Linked DNA regions of Homo sapiens: all the other regions are linked to region 1. Evidence: fine-mapped expression QTL. A gene starts in region 1. Each other region holds a variant in brackets. All regions are shown on one strand. Distances are between the middles of the regions.

Region 1 (5,340 bases):
AAGAGGCTTGAGGGAGCCAGTTGACCCTTCTACCATGTGAGGAAGCAGTGAGAAGATGCCATCTTTGAAGCAGGGAGCAAGCCCTCACCGGACACCAAATCTGCTGGTGCCTTGGTCCTGGATTTCCCAGCCTCCAGAACTGTGAGCAATAAATTTCTATTGTTTATAAATTATCCAGTCTAAGGTATTTTGTTATAGCAGCCCAAGCAGACTAAGACAGTGTTCACAGGTCACACTTTAAGCAACATGGATTTTGATGCTACTAAAGACCACCATTTTCAAATACTTTTTCTTTCTTTTGGACAATTATACAATCATATTGGTTATGCAATGAACAGACTTGATTAGACTAATGTAACACCGACCGCCTGAATATTTGCTCACGGGGGTCTGTATGCTTTATTCTGTGCACACAATCCCGTTTTTCCTTGAGTCTCCTCCATAAAGCAGAGCCCGGGGTAGGCCTCAGGGCTATATGTAGCTAGACTTTCTGGAGTATGACTAAGTGTCTGTACCGGACTAACACAGTAACAACTACTAGGTAACTGCAATTTAATTGCTCAAATCAGAACTAACTTCTAAAACATGTTTCTTCCCTTATAGTCATAGACTAAATTCTAGCCTAACTAGTGACAGATACAAGCTGTAATAATGTGTTATCTGTGTCTTAGCCTCCTAGGTGAAAATTTTTTCTTCCTTTATTTTTATCCCTATGGTTGAAGAAAGTAGCAGAGACCAACTGAATGAAGGTAAAAACCACTGGCTTTCTTAGGAAGAACTGTAGAGCAAAACAAAATTCATTTCTGGAGAGGAATAATTCCTACTTGAACGAATGGAAAAATAAAATCGTAGAATTAAAAAAAATAAACACATTGTAGAATAAAAACAACTTTGGTAATAAATTCAGATCCTAATCGTAAAAATTCATTTTTTAAGTAGCTCAATTATATAAATGACTCACTTATATAACCAAGGAGCTATATCATGGAGCATTTTTAAAGGTTTTTGTTTTTACACTAGGGTAAGCATTTCCCAAGTTTGTCTGTAACATGTGGCTTTTTCAAAATAAAAGAAAATGAGAAAATTCTCCCTACTGTCTCAATTAACGTAATTATGAATTAAGGAAGACCTAATTGATAGGGTTTTACTCTCTAGGTGCATAAATATATGGTGAAATACTCATTAAAATAATTACTAGACAGAAGTGCTCAGCTCCCTGTACCTTCTGAGATCCTCCCACCAGTAAAGGGAGGACGACAGAGTGGTAGCGCTTTCCTGTTAGTGTGCCAAAGAGAGGGGACACTGGTCACCAGGATAATCTAATGAAAATACCTCTGGGCTAATCGTCAAGAGATAGGGATTAAGTTAAGGTTCCAAAATGGTGAATACTATCCCCACCCCTTATGTCCAACCTCATCCCTCCCCGCCGAGCTTTCACTTTTCTCCCGGGAATTGCGGATGTGCAGTCTACTGCAGCAGCCCTGCGGGGAGGAATGGAGGAAGGGAAGGGGACGGCTGCAGGGTGTGTCACTTACGAGATGTAGGCTGGGTAGCCAAATCCTATCAGGTTGCAGAGGAGAGAGGCTCCATAACCGAACACCAGGTACAAGGCCACCAGTCCGATGACACCTGGGGACCACAAGGAGAGAAGTGGGTCGGGCAGCATGAGAGCCGTTCACGCGGGACAGCCGCCGCCCACACCGCGAGGCTGGGCCTGTTGTAGGAGTTTTCCTCTCGACTCGATTAAAGGAGCGAGAAAAACAAACCACACGAAAGCTGGGCCTGCGCGTCCGCTGGGCTATGCCTTGAAGTCTGGGGATACCAGGCAGCCCCACCATTGTGCCTCTCCTACCTCCCGCAGGGGGCCCCGGCGCTTTGCGCAGCAACCCCCGGCGCCCGGGACGGTCCCAGGCACCCGCTTCCGCCCTCTCGCAGGGCCTGCTGGGCAGCGCTCCAGCCTGGGAAGCTGCGCTCAGCGGGGAGCGTCCCGAGAGGCCCGGACTCCCGCACACGCTGCAGTAGCAGCCCCCGCCCACCCGAGAGGCGCCCTCTCCGGGCGGAGCTCCACGGAGGGTCGGGTAGGACCGGGTACCTCCGTCAACGCGCCCGCCCGCAGGGGCCCCGCCGTCCGCGCCCACCGCGCAGGACAGCAGGAATAGGGCGCCGGGCCGCGGGGCAGACATACGTCAGCGCTGGCCCTTCCAGCTGCCAGCGCCCGGCGCCGCAGCTGCCCTCCAGCCCCGCGACCCTCAGCCTGGGCAGCCCCCGCGGGGTCCTCCGATGCCCACGCTTTCCGGGAGGCCAGCCTGATCCCTGAATATGCTGCTTGTCCCGTCTGTCTCCGACTCCACCTTTCCCGAGTCCTCTCCCTGCTTCCTTCCCCAGCAGCTGGGGCAGCGGCGGCTCCCGTGGCCCTACCAGCGGCGGCGACCCCCGGCCACCCACCAAGAGCGATGAAGCTCCTGTTCACGCCGGTTTTGGCCTCGAGCTTGGCCAGAAGGTCAGTCATGCAGTTCTTCTCGTGCAGGAACCGGTCGAACCTCTCCCTCATGGCCGCAGACATGGCGGGGACCGTCTCGCCGCTCGGGGCTGTTCCTAGTGCCGGATAGACTGGAGCGGCGACTGCGGCGGAGCAGCGGCAGGCGGGGACCGCGGCGCGTCTACGCGTCCTCCACTCGCCTCCGCTCGCCCCGCCCGGCCGCCGCGCGCCCCTCCTCGGCCGCCGCGCGCCCCTCCTCCCCCGCCCAGCGCCAGGGGGACAGCGCCACACCCTGGCGGGGGCGGGCCTGCAACTCCGCGGACGCTGCGAGGTGGCCTGCCTGTTGACAGTCTTAACCCATTGCGGGGTAAAAAGGATGTGGCGTGGGGGCGTGCATTTTGTGTCTCTCGTGGGTCCCCTTCTCAAATCGGACTATTGCAAAAAGCAGGCAGAAAGGAGGCAGGCGTCCTTGTTGCTCCCGCCTGCAATTCACTGCGATGAGTTTGGCACCTACATTGCTGTGCTAAACCTAAGGCATTTTTGACCTAAAAAATTGAAATGTTTGAGCATCGTGAAAGAACTCTTTGGAAGCAGTCCTGCTTTCTCCCTCTTTGCCTTAACTTGGCAGTTTTTCTCACCTACAGACAATCGTTGCCTTGTAAAGACCCTTGAAGAAATCTAACACATCCTCCCTGGGGTACACCTTTTCCAAGCAAAAACTGCATTAAATCTTTTCATGGTGGGCTTGCGTTGTCTTGGTGTCTGATACTGTGGCAAGTGTCCAAATTCTCTCTGTGGAGCCAATATACTCTGCACTTCCTACAGTCAAAATACTCTGAAGAAGACGGAGATTCTAAGGTCCAAGCCTTAGGGCAGGAGCTCATTTTTGCTTCCTTCAGAATGAGTTGGCCATGCTCTTCCTCCACCTAAACCTAGGCTCCTCTTATCTCACCCATATGACTTCCAGACACTCCTAAAATTACTCTTGTTGACTCCTATTCTGCACACTGCTGCAGAATTTTTGTCCGAAGCTCCGTATTATTATCCTAACAGACTAGAGCTCCCATTCCTTGGCAGAGCATTCAATGCCCTGCCCACAACTGGCCCCGAACATTCTGTCTTGGTCCTACACAACCCCTCTGTGCTTTCAAATCTACTTAATTACCCTACTGCCTTCCACTTCTGCAAAAAGTTATCTTGCCCACGCCTAGCTTTTTCCTTTTATGCTAATTCTCCTTCCTCCTTTCTTCCTCAGAGCTTCTTAGCTCAGCTTTCTCAGCTGTTCCTACCACCACCCAGCCAAATCAGTGAACAAGTGAAACAACCTGCTGTCTACTTCTGTCTTTTCACCTACAGTTAATTCTCAATGTGGCAGACAGTAGAATCTGTTTTAAAATGTGCGTCAAGTTGTGCTATGTTTTTGTTCTCAACCCTCCAGCAACTTCCTATCTGCCTGAAGGAGGGCATCAGGGTCACAGGTGACATGGTTCATCCCTCCCCTTTCTGATGTCTTCCCTTACTGCCTCCCTCCTTGCTGTGCCTCAGACAAGGTAAGCCCATTCCTGCCTCTGGGCGTTCGTTCACTTTTCTTCTATTTCAGTGGTTCTCAACCAGGAGCACTTCCTCTCCCCTTCTTCCTCCTGGGGGGAGGAGTAGCAATGTCTAGAGATACTTTCGTTGTGAAACAGATTGTCACACAAGGAGAGCAGGAGGTGGCAAGTGCAACTAGCATCTAGTGGTTAGAGACTAGGGGTGCTGCTAAACATCCTGTAACACACAGGACAGCCCCCACAACAAAGAATTATCCAGCCCCAAATGTCAATAATGTGACAGTCCAGAAACCCTCCTCTATCTGAAAGTATCTTTCCCCAGTTAACCATTTAACTGTCCCCTTCCATTATTCAGATATTTGTTCAAATGGTACCCCTAATCTCAAATTGCAACCCCCAGTGGTCTCTAGCTTGATTTTTCTCCATAGAATTTATTACTGTCTGGCATTATGTTCTACTTTTTTTTTTTTTTTTTTGAGACTGTCTCACTCTGTCACGCAGGCTGGAGTACAGAGGCGTGGTCACAGCTCACCGCAGCCTCGACCTCCTGCTGTGCTCAAGCCATCCTCCCACCTCAGCCTCCCAAGTAGCTGGGACCATAGCCGTGTGCCACCATGTCCGGCTAATTTTTTCTGTTTTTAGTATAGATGGGGTTTCACTATGTTACCCAGGCCAGTCTTGAACTCTGTGATCTGCCCACCTTGGCCTCCCAAAGTTCTGGGATTACAGGTATGAGCCACCACCATGCCAGACCATGTTCTATTTTTAAATTATCTTTCTTTCCTCACTAGATTATGAGCTCCGTGAGGGTAGACATTTTTGCTTATTTTATTTGCTTCAATATTTTAAGCACATTGAACAGTGCCTGGCACTTAGTAGTTGTTCAATAACTATTTGTTGAATTAATGAATGAATGAATATCTAACATGTGTTGTACCACCCAGTATTCCAAGTGTTACGTGGACTAGTTCATTTAATCCTCACAGCTGCATGAGGAAGATGCTACCTGTTTCATCCTCATTTAAGGAAAAAAAAAATGAGACATAGTGAGTTCCCATATCACAATAAGTGGCAGAGCTAGAATTCAGAATCAGGCTCTTACCCCTATATTACATTGCTATTATGGGTTGAATTGTATTCTACCTCCCTAAAGAAGACATGTTGGAATCCTAACCTACAGTACCTCAGAGTGTGATCTTATTTGGTAATAGGGTCTTCAAAGAGGTAGTCAAATTCAAATGAACTCCTTAGGGTGGACCTCAATCCAGTGTGACTGTTGTCCTTATAAAATGGGAAATTTGGCCAGGCGCG
Region 2 (5,000 bases), 160 kb before region 1:
TTGTAGGTACAGCTAAAAAATGCTATGGTTTATTTAATACTTATTGTTGGACATCTGAATTTATATGGCTTTTTAATTTCTTTTTTTAGTATTTTAAGTTTTTATTATTTCTTTTTAAAAAGACCATTAATGTACCATTAGTTTTGAAAAAATTAGATGTATGTCCAATGATGTACGAAGGATTTTTTATTTTTAAACTTTTAAATCTTTGTAACTTTTCTAAAAACAAGTAGGATTTTTTCTAATACATATTGTTTAAAAAGTATGACACAACAAGTAAAAAAGAAATTGCTTGTAATTTCAGTCTCCATAGAATAACACTGTTAACATTTTAATGATTCTGCTTTCAGCATCAGCTTCACCTGAGAACTTGTTCAAAATGCAGATTTTCAGCCTCTACCCCAGGCTTACTGAATCGACAGTCTATGTTTTAACAAGGTCTTCAGGTGATTCTGATCCATGCTGACGCTTGAGAACACTACTGTAGGCTTTGGAGAAGAATCTTACAAAGAGAGACCTGATCGGCCGGGCGCGGTGGCTCACGCCTGTAATCCCAGCACTTTGGGAGGCTGACGCGGGCGGATGGTGATGTCAGGAGATCGAGACCATCCTGGCTAACACGGTGAAACCCCGTCTCTACTATACTAAAAAAAAAAAAAAAAAATTAGCCGGGCGTGGTGGCGGGAGCCTGTAGTCCCAGCTACTGGGGAGGCTGAGGCAGGAGAATGGCGTGAACTTGGGAGGCGGAGCTTTCAGTGAGCCGAGATTGCGCCACTGCTCTCCAGCCTGGGCGACAGAGCGAGACTCCGTCTCAAAAAAAAAAAAAAAAAAGAGACCTGATCACAGCTGTGCCTTAAAAAGGCTGCTCTGACAGCTCTGTGCAAGGTTGAGCCACTTGGGAAATTATTTTCATAGTTTAGGTAGGGTTAATAACAAGATAGTGGCAGTAAGAATATGAAAGAGATAGCTGTAAGAGAGCTAATAGAGGTAGAATCACCAGAAATCCATAACTGGGAATGTGAAGGAAGAGGTGCTAAGGATTTGAGCTGGAGGAGAAAGAGAAGGCTAATGCCATTTAACTGAGAGAATACAAGGCAAAGAATAGGCTTTATTGGTACAAAATGTTAGTTCAGTTCTGGACATTTAGATGTATGGTACCTGTCATACAGATGTAAAGCATCCATCAGTTGGTTGGAAAAGTGAGTCTGAAGTTTGCAAGTGAAGTTAGGATTCGAGACATGTCATTGGAAATTAACTGCTCAAGGGTAGTTGTTGAATTGTGAGACCGGAAGCCTGAGAAATAAGGATAAGATTAAAAAAGGATTATTGAAGGACTAAAACAGTAGCAATGGATGGAAAGAGAATTGGAATCCTGGAAAAATCACAGGTAGTCTCCAATGAGAGTTCTTAAATGGAAGAGATGGTGCCCTGAAGTTTATAGTAGACATTTTGATGGGCATATTCAAATTCAGTAAAGGAAGTTATCACTGAGCAAATTTGTTTTCTATTCCACAAATGTAAAACACTCTGGAATATTTTGAAAATAATACAGTCACCTTCATGCCCCCACATCTACTTACCAAAGCCTTTCAAACTCCAACATAGTCTATTATTTTGAAGGTCAGATACTAAGGCTATTTATTAAAAGGAATTCTGGGGTTTGGGGGCGATTTCTTTGTTTCTGTTTTTTTAGCTGAGGTCTCACTCTGTCCCCCAGGCTGGAGTGCAGTGGTGAGACTGTGGCTCACTGCAGCCTCAAACTTCTGGGCTCAAGTGATTCTCCTGCCTCAGCCTCCCAAGTAGCTGGGACTACAGGCACATGCCACCACTCATGGTTTTTGTTTGTTTGTTTTTTTAATTTTGTAGGGACAGAGTCTCGCTATGTTGTT[C/T]AGGCTGGTCTCAAACTCCTGGACTCAAGTGACCTTCCTGCCTTAGCCTCCCAAAGCGTTGAGGTTACAGGCATGAGCCACCATGAATGCTTACAATGTCACTGTCAAGATAAATCAGTGAAACCGTCTTTGCTCCAGTCACTCACTTTTTGACAGGTTTTCCTTTTAATGTATTTACAGATTACTTTTCTTATAGGGGAACGTTCCATTTAGTTACAAAGTTGCAAATGTTCAAATATTTTGTCTTGCATTCAGGAAACCTGATTGGCCAAAGAACTATGCTAGGAGCTAGAATGGAATGCCTCAGTAAATGGAAAATAATATAAATTATTATTAAGTAGCATGCAATAAGAGCCAAAGTTCACAAATGTAATGGCAGAAAAACTGGTAGAAAATGAAAATTTCCAACATTCTTTGAGAAAAAATGATCAAGAAAGGGATTACATGGGAAAGAAGAAAAGCATCAAAAGTCAAGAAGTAGTGAACATACAGTCATTTGAATGTATGCTAATTGTAAATTAGTATACTAGCAGAATATACTTAAATGTGGTATATAAAAGCTTGAATGTTGAAGTTGTTAAATAGATTATGTGTTAATTTGGTGTTTTTTATGGTCATGTTGGTGCACGCTTAAGAGACATGGATTCTAAACACATAAGTAGCTTTTGTAACTTGAGCAAGTCTCTGGGTCTCACTTGTTTTATCTGAAAAATGAGAATAATTTGCATTGTTGGTTTTTAGGTTTGAAATAATGAATGTATCTTAAATGTGTTTCTAATACCTTGCACAGAGACTCCCCATAATCACCATTATCTCAAAATATCACTATTATTATTTGGCCATGATTTATTTATTAATAATGAATAATAGGTAATATATATAAGGTGCGTGCTTTGAGAGTGATCTGAATTTTTTTCTCAGCATACTTAAATGTCAAGAAATACAGAATCATGTCTTGAAGTTATTTAGAATTTCATGTTAATATATTGTGTTCTTTTTAACAGGAAGTACTTAAACAACTACAAGGAAGTATTGAAGATGAAGCTATGGCTTCTTCTGGACAGATTGATTTATTAGAGCGTCTTAAAGGTAGATTTTAAAAAGGTGTTTTAAAATAATTTTTTAAGCTCAAATTGTCATCTTTAGGTGTGTAGATCCAAGTACAGCTTCTCTCGATTTGGGTGTTGGTATCAGTTTTCTTGGTATGTTAGCCTTACCCTCAGGATGTAATTGTTAAAGTACAAATAAATAAAAAATGTATTTGTGTGTCATTTCTTCAGTTAAACATTTAACTGGCTTTGAATGAACTATTTTAAATCCCTCCCTTAAATAATTTTCGGCTCTTTGTAAAGCTTGTTGCTATTCTGCCAGTCACTAAATAGGGCTTTAGTATTCTATATGCCATAGACTTGAGCCTACTGTTTCATTGGAAGAAGTATTGTCTTCTTCATTCAGGATAGAAATACTTTAACCTTTTCACATATATAAGTTGATTATAATTCATTTTTAGCAGTTTTAAAAGGATATCTTTCTCATTCTGTTGCTTGAAAATTCCAGTGTCAGAACAGAGAAAGTGCTTGATAATAATTGAAGCCAGACAGAGAAATTACTTTTGGATTCTAAAATATTATTTAGAGGAAGTCTAAGGAAGTACATTTTATCTAATTTTCCTTTAACACACTCCTTATTTTTACCCTGACCCAAGTGGACTTTTCAGGGAAAGTCCTAAATAATTTTTGTTTTCAGTCATGTATATTTGTGGTTAAAATGTAAACCTAATATTTCACTTTAAAATAATATAACATTAAGAATATTTTAGACTGCTTAAAGCAATTGTTGTATAAAAACTTGTTTCTATTTTATTTAGAGCTTAACTTAGATAGCAGTAATTTCCCTGGAGTAAAACTGCGGTCAAAAATGTCCCTCCGTTCTTATGGAAGCCGGGAAGGATCTGTATCAAGCCGTTCTGGAGAGTGCAGTCCTGTTCCTATGGGTTCATTTCCAAGAAGAGGGTTTGTAAATGGAAGCAGAGAAAGTACTGGATATTTAGAAGAACTTGAGAAAGAGAGGTAACTTTTCTTCATATAGTAAACATTGCCTTGTGTACTCCAGTTTATTGTTATTTTGTAATATAATATTTAAATTGTGAATTTATAGTAGGTGATAGCTAACACTTAGAGCATTTTGCATTTTTAAACTCAAAGATAGCATGTTATTGATTGCACTTACATTAAATCTAAAAATATAAACAAGGCCGTTTCCTGGGATTCTGAAGACCTATTTTGTCACTTATTTTGTTTTTTTGTTTGTTTTTTGGGGTTTATTTTGAGACAGGGTGTCACTGTGTCTCCCAGGCTGGAGTGTAGTGGCATGATCTCGGCTCACTGCAACCTCCACCTCCTGGGTTCAAGCGGTTCTTGTGCCTCAGCCACCCAAGTAGCTGAAACTATAGACGCCTACCACCACGCCTGGCTAATTTTTGTATTTTTGGTAGAGACGGGGTTTCTTCATGTTGGCCAAGCTGGTTATCACTTAAATACTTTGACTACTCTGTACATTGAGTAATACACATAATTATTATATTTATACGTAGTTAAAATGTGTAACTTGCCAGATACTTTGGCCCACACCTGTAATCCCAGCTACTCTGGAGGCTGAGGCGGTAGGATTGCTTGAGGCCAGGAGTTCAGGACTAGCCTGGGTGACATAGTAAGACTCTTTCTTTTTTTTTTTTTTTTTGAGATGCAGTTTCACTTTTGTTGCCCAGGCTGGATTGCAATGGCACAATCTCGGCTCACTGCAACCTCTGCCTCCCAGGTTCAAGCGATTCTTCTGCTTCAGTCTCCCAAGTAGCTGGGATTACAGGCATGTGCCACCACGCCTGGCTAATTTTATATTTTGAGTAGAGACAGTGTTTCACCATGTTGGTCAGGCTAGTCTCAAACTCATGACCTTAGGTGATTCCCCCCTGCCTCGGCCTTCTAAAGTGCTGGGATTACAGGCATGAGGCACTACACTTGGCCAAGACTCTGTCTCTTTACCAAAAAAAAAAAAAGAAAAAAAGTAGTAACTGGATTTTTATTGAATTTCTGATTATCTATTGAAGTATAT
Region 3 (5,340 bases), 260 kb before region 1:
TTTTTTCACATCATCAAGTATGTCTTGAAACTGTTCTCCCATGCTTACATTTCAACATAATTTTTTTATTTTAAAGTGATTTAAATTATTATAATATGGAGGTGCAAGAGTTGCTTCAAAGGGAATACCAGCTTTCTCTAGTTTCTAGGTTAAGAGACTCTGCTTTAACTTCACGAGGTCATAATCTCCCCACTCATCAGATTCTGCCCTTTATTCTATGTCCTTCATGCAATAGTTCTAAAAATAAAATGCAAATGTGAAATTTATAGGAAAAAAATACTTCTTAAGAGATTCAGAACAGAGAAAATTGAGGTTATGAACCTGGTGATGCAGAGGAACAGCCACTTGTAATCAGTATGAACCAGAAGGAGAGAGCAGTAATGGCGTCAGTGACTGAAGTTATTAAGAATCCAGAGAATCCAAGAGGATTGTTAGAAGTAGGTGGGAAAAAACCCACAAAAGTTGAAGAGGTTTTTGGAGGCTACATTAAAGCTTTCTTTTGTCTAGAACTTGTAAGTGTCTCTATGAATTAAGAGCATTAACCTCTCCACATTGTTCTCCTTATAGGTAAAATGTGAGGGGGAAGGACACACTGAATAAATTACCTCTTCACTGTTGTCACAGAAATAAAATGACGAAAGTTGCCCCAGATCCCCAATGACTACGTATAATAAAAAGGAATGGCCAGGTGCAGTAGCTGTCACCTATAATCCTAGCACTTTGGGAGACCAAGGCAGATCGATTGCTTGAGTCCAGGAGTTCACGACCAGCCTGGCAAAACCCCATCTCTATATTAAAAAAAAAAAAATACAAAAGTTAGCTAGGCGTGGTGGTGTGCACTTGAAGTCCCAGCTACTCAAGAGGCTGAAATGGGAGGACTGCTTGAGCCCAGGAGGCGGAGGTTGCAGTGAACTGAGGATGCATCACTGCACTCCAGCCTGGGTGACACAGCAAGACCCTGTTTCAAAAAAAAGAAAGTGAAAAGCAAAGGTTAGGCCGGGCGCAGTGGCTCACACCTGTAATCCCAGCACTTTGGAGGCCGAGGCGGGTGGATCACGAGGTCAGGAGATCGAGACCATCCTGGCTAGCACGGTGAAACCCCGTCTCTACTAAAAATACAAAAAATTAGCCGGGCGTGGTGGTGGGCACCTGTAGTCCCAGCTACTCGGGAGGCTGAGGCAGGAGAATGGCATGAATCTGGGAGGCGGAGCTTGCAGTGAGCCGAGATCGCACCACTGCACTCCAGCCTGGGTAACAGAGCAAGACTCCATCTCAAAAAAAAAAGAAAGAAAGAAAGAAAGAAAAGCAAAGGTTAACATATTATGCCATATTCGAGGCAAAGAGTTAGTATCAAAGTTCTTGTTTACAATGGTGAAAAACTACACATTTTAAAAGGAGAGCAAAAAATATTTTTTAAAGTCAGCCTTAAATTTATCAAAAAGAGCCAAACTAGGAGATGGAAAAATCTAATACAATTTTATTATTAATAGTTATCTACTGCCACTTAACAAATTACCCCAAAACTCAATGGCTTAAAAGAACAAACATTTCTTTTCACAGCTTTTGTGAGCCAAGAACCTGGGAGAAGCTTAGCTGGGTGGTTCTGGCTCAGGTTTTGCCATCTAGAGACTTGACAGGTGCTAGAGGGTCCTCTTTCTAACTGTCTCATGCAGCTGTTGTCTGGAGGCTTTCATTCCTTGTGACGGCTCACAGAATCATCTTGTGGATCTCACTTCAGAGCTGGTGTGTAGCTTCACAATAGGGTAGTTGGCTTCCCTCAGAGTCAGTGATCCAAGAGTGTAAGCTGGGGGGAATCGGGATGCTTTTGATCTGCTAGTCACATACCCTTACTTACACTGTATTTTATTCATTAGAAGAGAATCATCAAGGCCAGGCATGGTGGCTCACACCTGTAATCCTAGCATTTTGGAAGGCCAAGGCAGGAGGATTGTTTGAGGCCAGGAGTTCAAGACCAACCTGGCCAACATAGCGAGACCTCATCTCTATAAATAATTTAATTAATTAAAAAGAAGAGAATCATCAAGTCCAGCCCACACTCAGGAGGAGGGGAATTAGCCTCTGCCCTTTGGAGGAAGAATGTGAAAGAATTTGTGGACACATTTTTAAATCATCATATGATAACTTAAAAAACTGTGAGAGGTAACTGGCAGGAAGGGCTTGGGAGGAGCACCAACTTCTAGAACAGAACAGAAAAGCCAGATACACAGGAAGGCTCAGCTCCTACCTTTACTGCTGCCCCCAGAAACAGTACAAGACAGTCAACAAAATCTTGAGGACTCTTACCAAAACCTCCAGATAAAGATAGAATATATGTACTGAGTGCATATGTGTATCTCTCTCATCTTCTGACTGAGAAATGATGGGAATGAATGCTGAAGGAAAAGGGATAAATAGAGAAGTGAGCAATGGCTCTGATGCTCTGAAAAGTATGAGAGGCTCCAGGGTTCCAGACTGAATTAGGAAAACAATCCAAAACCCCCGAGTAATACCAACACTGTTGGGGCCCTGCCCACACCCCTTCAGCATTCACAATTCCTATATCTGGTTTTTGAGCTTCCAACTGCAACCACCTATAGCTGAGAGTTGTTCTGCTTTGTTTTGTTTTGTTTTGTTTTGTTTTGTTCTGTTTTTGAGACAGAGTCTCGCTCTGTCACCCAGGCTGGAGTGCAGGTGGCATGATCTTGGTTCACTGCAACCTCCACCTCCCAGATTCAAGCAATTCTCCTGCCTCAGCCTCCCAAGTAGCTGGGACTACAGGCACGTGCTACTACATCCCGCTAATTTTTTGTATTTTTAGTAGATATGGGGTTTCACCATGTTGGCCAGGCTTGTCTTGAACTCCTGACCTCGAGTGATCCGCCTGCCTTGGTCCCTCAAAGTGCTGGGATTACAGGCGTGAGCCACCACACCCAGCCTCTGAGGGTTCTTTTGATCAGCAGAGCCCATTTGGCCTCTTGTG[G/A]GGCAGGCAGAAAGTGCTGGGAAGTTAATGCCTCCTTCCAGCAATGCTCAACCAATGACTGACAACAGGTGGGACAAATATCCAATTTCTCCACTCTCAATTGCAGTAACTCTGATATGTGTTCTGCACTGCCTCCCAGAGATCCCTGGTGGGATTGAGCTGCTCCTATGGCCCACAAAAGTAACCTTTTACTGGCTCACCCTTTACTGGCTTTCTTCCCTTCCCTTCCTCACTTTTTCCACTCACCTACCAGTGCTTCCTGGGACTTTCTCCCAAATAAACTGCTTCCACTCACTTTCTTGTCTCAGGTTCTGCTTCTGAGATAACCCAACCTAAGAACCAATGAAAAGAACAGGACACATGCTCAAATGGGAAGTATGAACCCTGATATAGAACAATTAACAAAATCCCAGAAGACAGAGTAGAGCCCAGGTAATATAAAAGATAGCATACCCATGATTATCTGTAGTATGTTTCCACTTTTATAAAAGTGTCAACCTAAATAACAGAGACAGAGTCTCTAAAAGAAAATTATACCTATTCAGGAATAAAGCATTGCAATGGGAATATGTGTGCCACGTAAACTATACGCATATTCAAGGGGGTAAAGGAAGACGAAGGCTTTTAAATGAAAAATGAGGAGGATTACATAATTGTTTTGAGATAATTTTCCTTGGGTTACAAGGATCAATAACAAGGGTGACACCAGTCCAAGTTTGGACAGGCAGTTGGGGGTAGATATTCTCGCAAAAGTATTTTTTGTGTAAGGTGGTGATGGCCTTTGTACAAGGTTGTGGTTTTTGCAGTCTTTTGTGACAGTTTTTGTCACCAAGTATTTATGCATGTGAACCCTTCTCTCCATGGCCTTCCTTGGCTCTATTTGTCAGAGTTTTTGTTGTTTTTTTTTTAAACACAAGGGACTATTTTTATTCTGACAACTTTTACAAAAGTACTCCACTCCTGTTCTTCAACAAGCCAGCAGCCATCTATTTGTCTATCTTTTATTCATCCACCTGTAGACATGCATAGAAATATGTGTAGGCACACGCACTATGCCATGCTGCCATGGCTGCTGGCACCCCCTGTGAAGCACTTTGGCTGTCACCACTCATTGGAGTGTTGTGGCCAGTAGACCAAGAACACCTTGGCTCCTCCAGTGCAGCAGGTTCCTAATTTCAAAGGGCCAGAGAACAAAGGCAGGGACCTGGTACCAGCCCCACAAAGCTAGAACATGCAAACCAGAGGTGTTGACCTGGGCCTTGGTTCCCTAAAATCTTCCAGTAATGAACTCAGTTGACTGAACCCACCTTTTACCACAATCAAACCCCCAAGGGTATCAAAGAAGATAAAAAGAAAAAAAACATTCAAAGGACAGCAACTTAAAACATTGAAGGATCACCAGCCCAGCCTACAGAGATGAGAAAGAACCAGCTCAGGAACTCTGTCAACTCAAAGAGTCAGAGTGTTTTCTTACCTCCAAATAATCACACTAGTCCCCCTGTTCTTAACCAATCTGAAGTGACTGAAATGACAGACATAAATATTATTCAGATTATGGATAGGAAAGAAGATCATTGACATTCAGGAGAAAGTCAAAACCCAGTCCAAAAAAAATCTAAGGAACACAATAAAATGACACAGGGCAGTAAAGATGAAATGGCCATCTTAAGAAAGAACCAAACGGATCTGATAGAACTGAAAAACTCACTTCAAGAATTTCATAATACAACCACAAGTATTAACAGCAGAATCAACAAAACTGCAGAAAGAATTTTAGAGCTCAAAGACAAGTTCTCTGAAATAAATCAGTCAGACAAAAATAAATAAAAAATAATAAAGAAGAATGAAGAAAATTTCTGAAAAATATGGGATTATGTATAGAGACCAAATGTATGATTCATTGGCATACCTGAAATAGAGGAAGAGAAAGCAAGCAACTTGGAAAACATATTTGAGAATATCATCCATGAGAATGTCCCCAAGTGCACCAGAGAGGCCAACATTCAAATTCAGGAAATGCAGAGAACCCCTGCAAGATACTATTCAAGATGATCATCCACAAGACACATAGTCATCAGATTCTCCAAGGTCAAAATTAAAGACAAAATGTTAAAGGCAGCTAGAGAGAAGGGTCAGGTCACCTGCAAAGGGAATCCCATCAAGCTAAAAACAGACCTTTCAGCAGAAATGCTACAAGCCAGAAGAAATTGGGGGCCTATATTTAATATTCATAAAGAAAAGAAATTCCAACCAAGAATTTCACATCCAGCCAAACTAAGCTTCATATGTGAAAGAGAAATAAAATCCTTTTCGGACAAGTAAATGCTAGGGGGATTGGTTACCATTAGACTTATTTTACA

Evidence for each region. PIP is the estimated chance that this variant, and not a neighbour inherited with it, causes the effect. A credible set is the group of variants that fine-mapping cannot tell apart.
Region 2: its variant is the best candidate, but not a certain one, in a credible set for the expression of REEP5 in whole blood (INTERVAL, PIP 0.77).
Region 3: its variant is the best candidate, but not a certain one, in a credible set for the expression of REEP5 in lung (TOPMed, PIP 0.80).

Annotation. Positions count from the first base shown.
Region 1 is chr5:112,919,628-112,924,967 of GRCh38, forward strand. REEP5 (receptor accessory protein 5) reads right to left here and starts at 2,600. Exons shown (of 5, transcript NM_005669.5): 1 at 2,446-2,600; 2 at 1,536-1,629. The coding sequence starts at 2,563. LOC105379123 (a long non-coding RNA gene) reads left to right here and starts at 2,760. Exons shown (of 3, transcript XR_948675.3): 1 at 2,760-4,029. RefSeq lists silencers at 1,791-2,240, 2,601-2,870 and an enhancer at 4,003-4,122.
Region 2 is chr5:112,763,433-112,768,432 of GRCh38, forward strand. It overlaps APC (APC regulator of Wnt signaling pathway), which reads left to right. Exons shown (of 16, transcript NM_000038.6): 3 at 2,894-2,978; 4 at 3,757-3,958. Among named protein-coding and RNA genes, the nearest start is that of APC, 28 kb to the left of the region's middle. The variant C/T (reference allele first, on the strand shown) is at 1,890.
Region 3 is chr5:112,654,969-112,660,308 of GRCh38, forward strand. LOC102467216 (a long non-coding RNA gene) reads right to left here. Exons shown (of 3, transcript NR_104673.1): 2 at 3,227-3,312; 3 at 1,460-1,804. Among named protein-coding and RNA genes, the nearest start is that of LINC02200, 29 kb to the left of the region's middle. The variant G/A (reference allele first, on the strand shown) is at 2,981.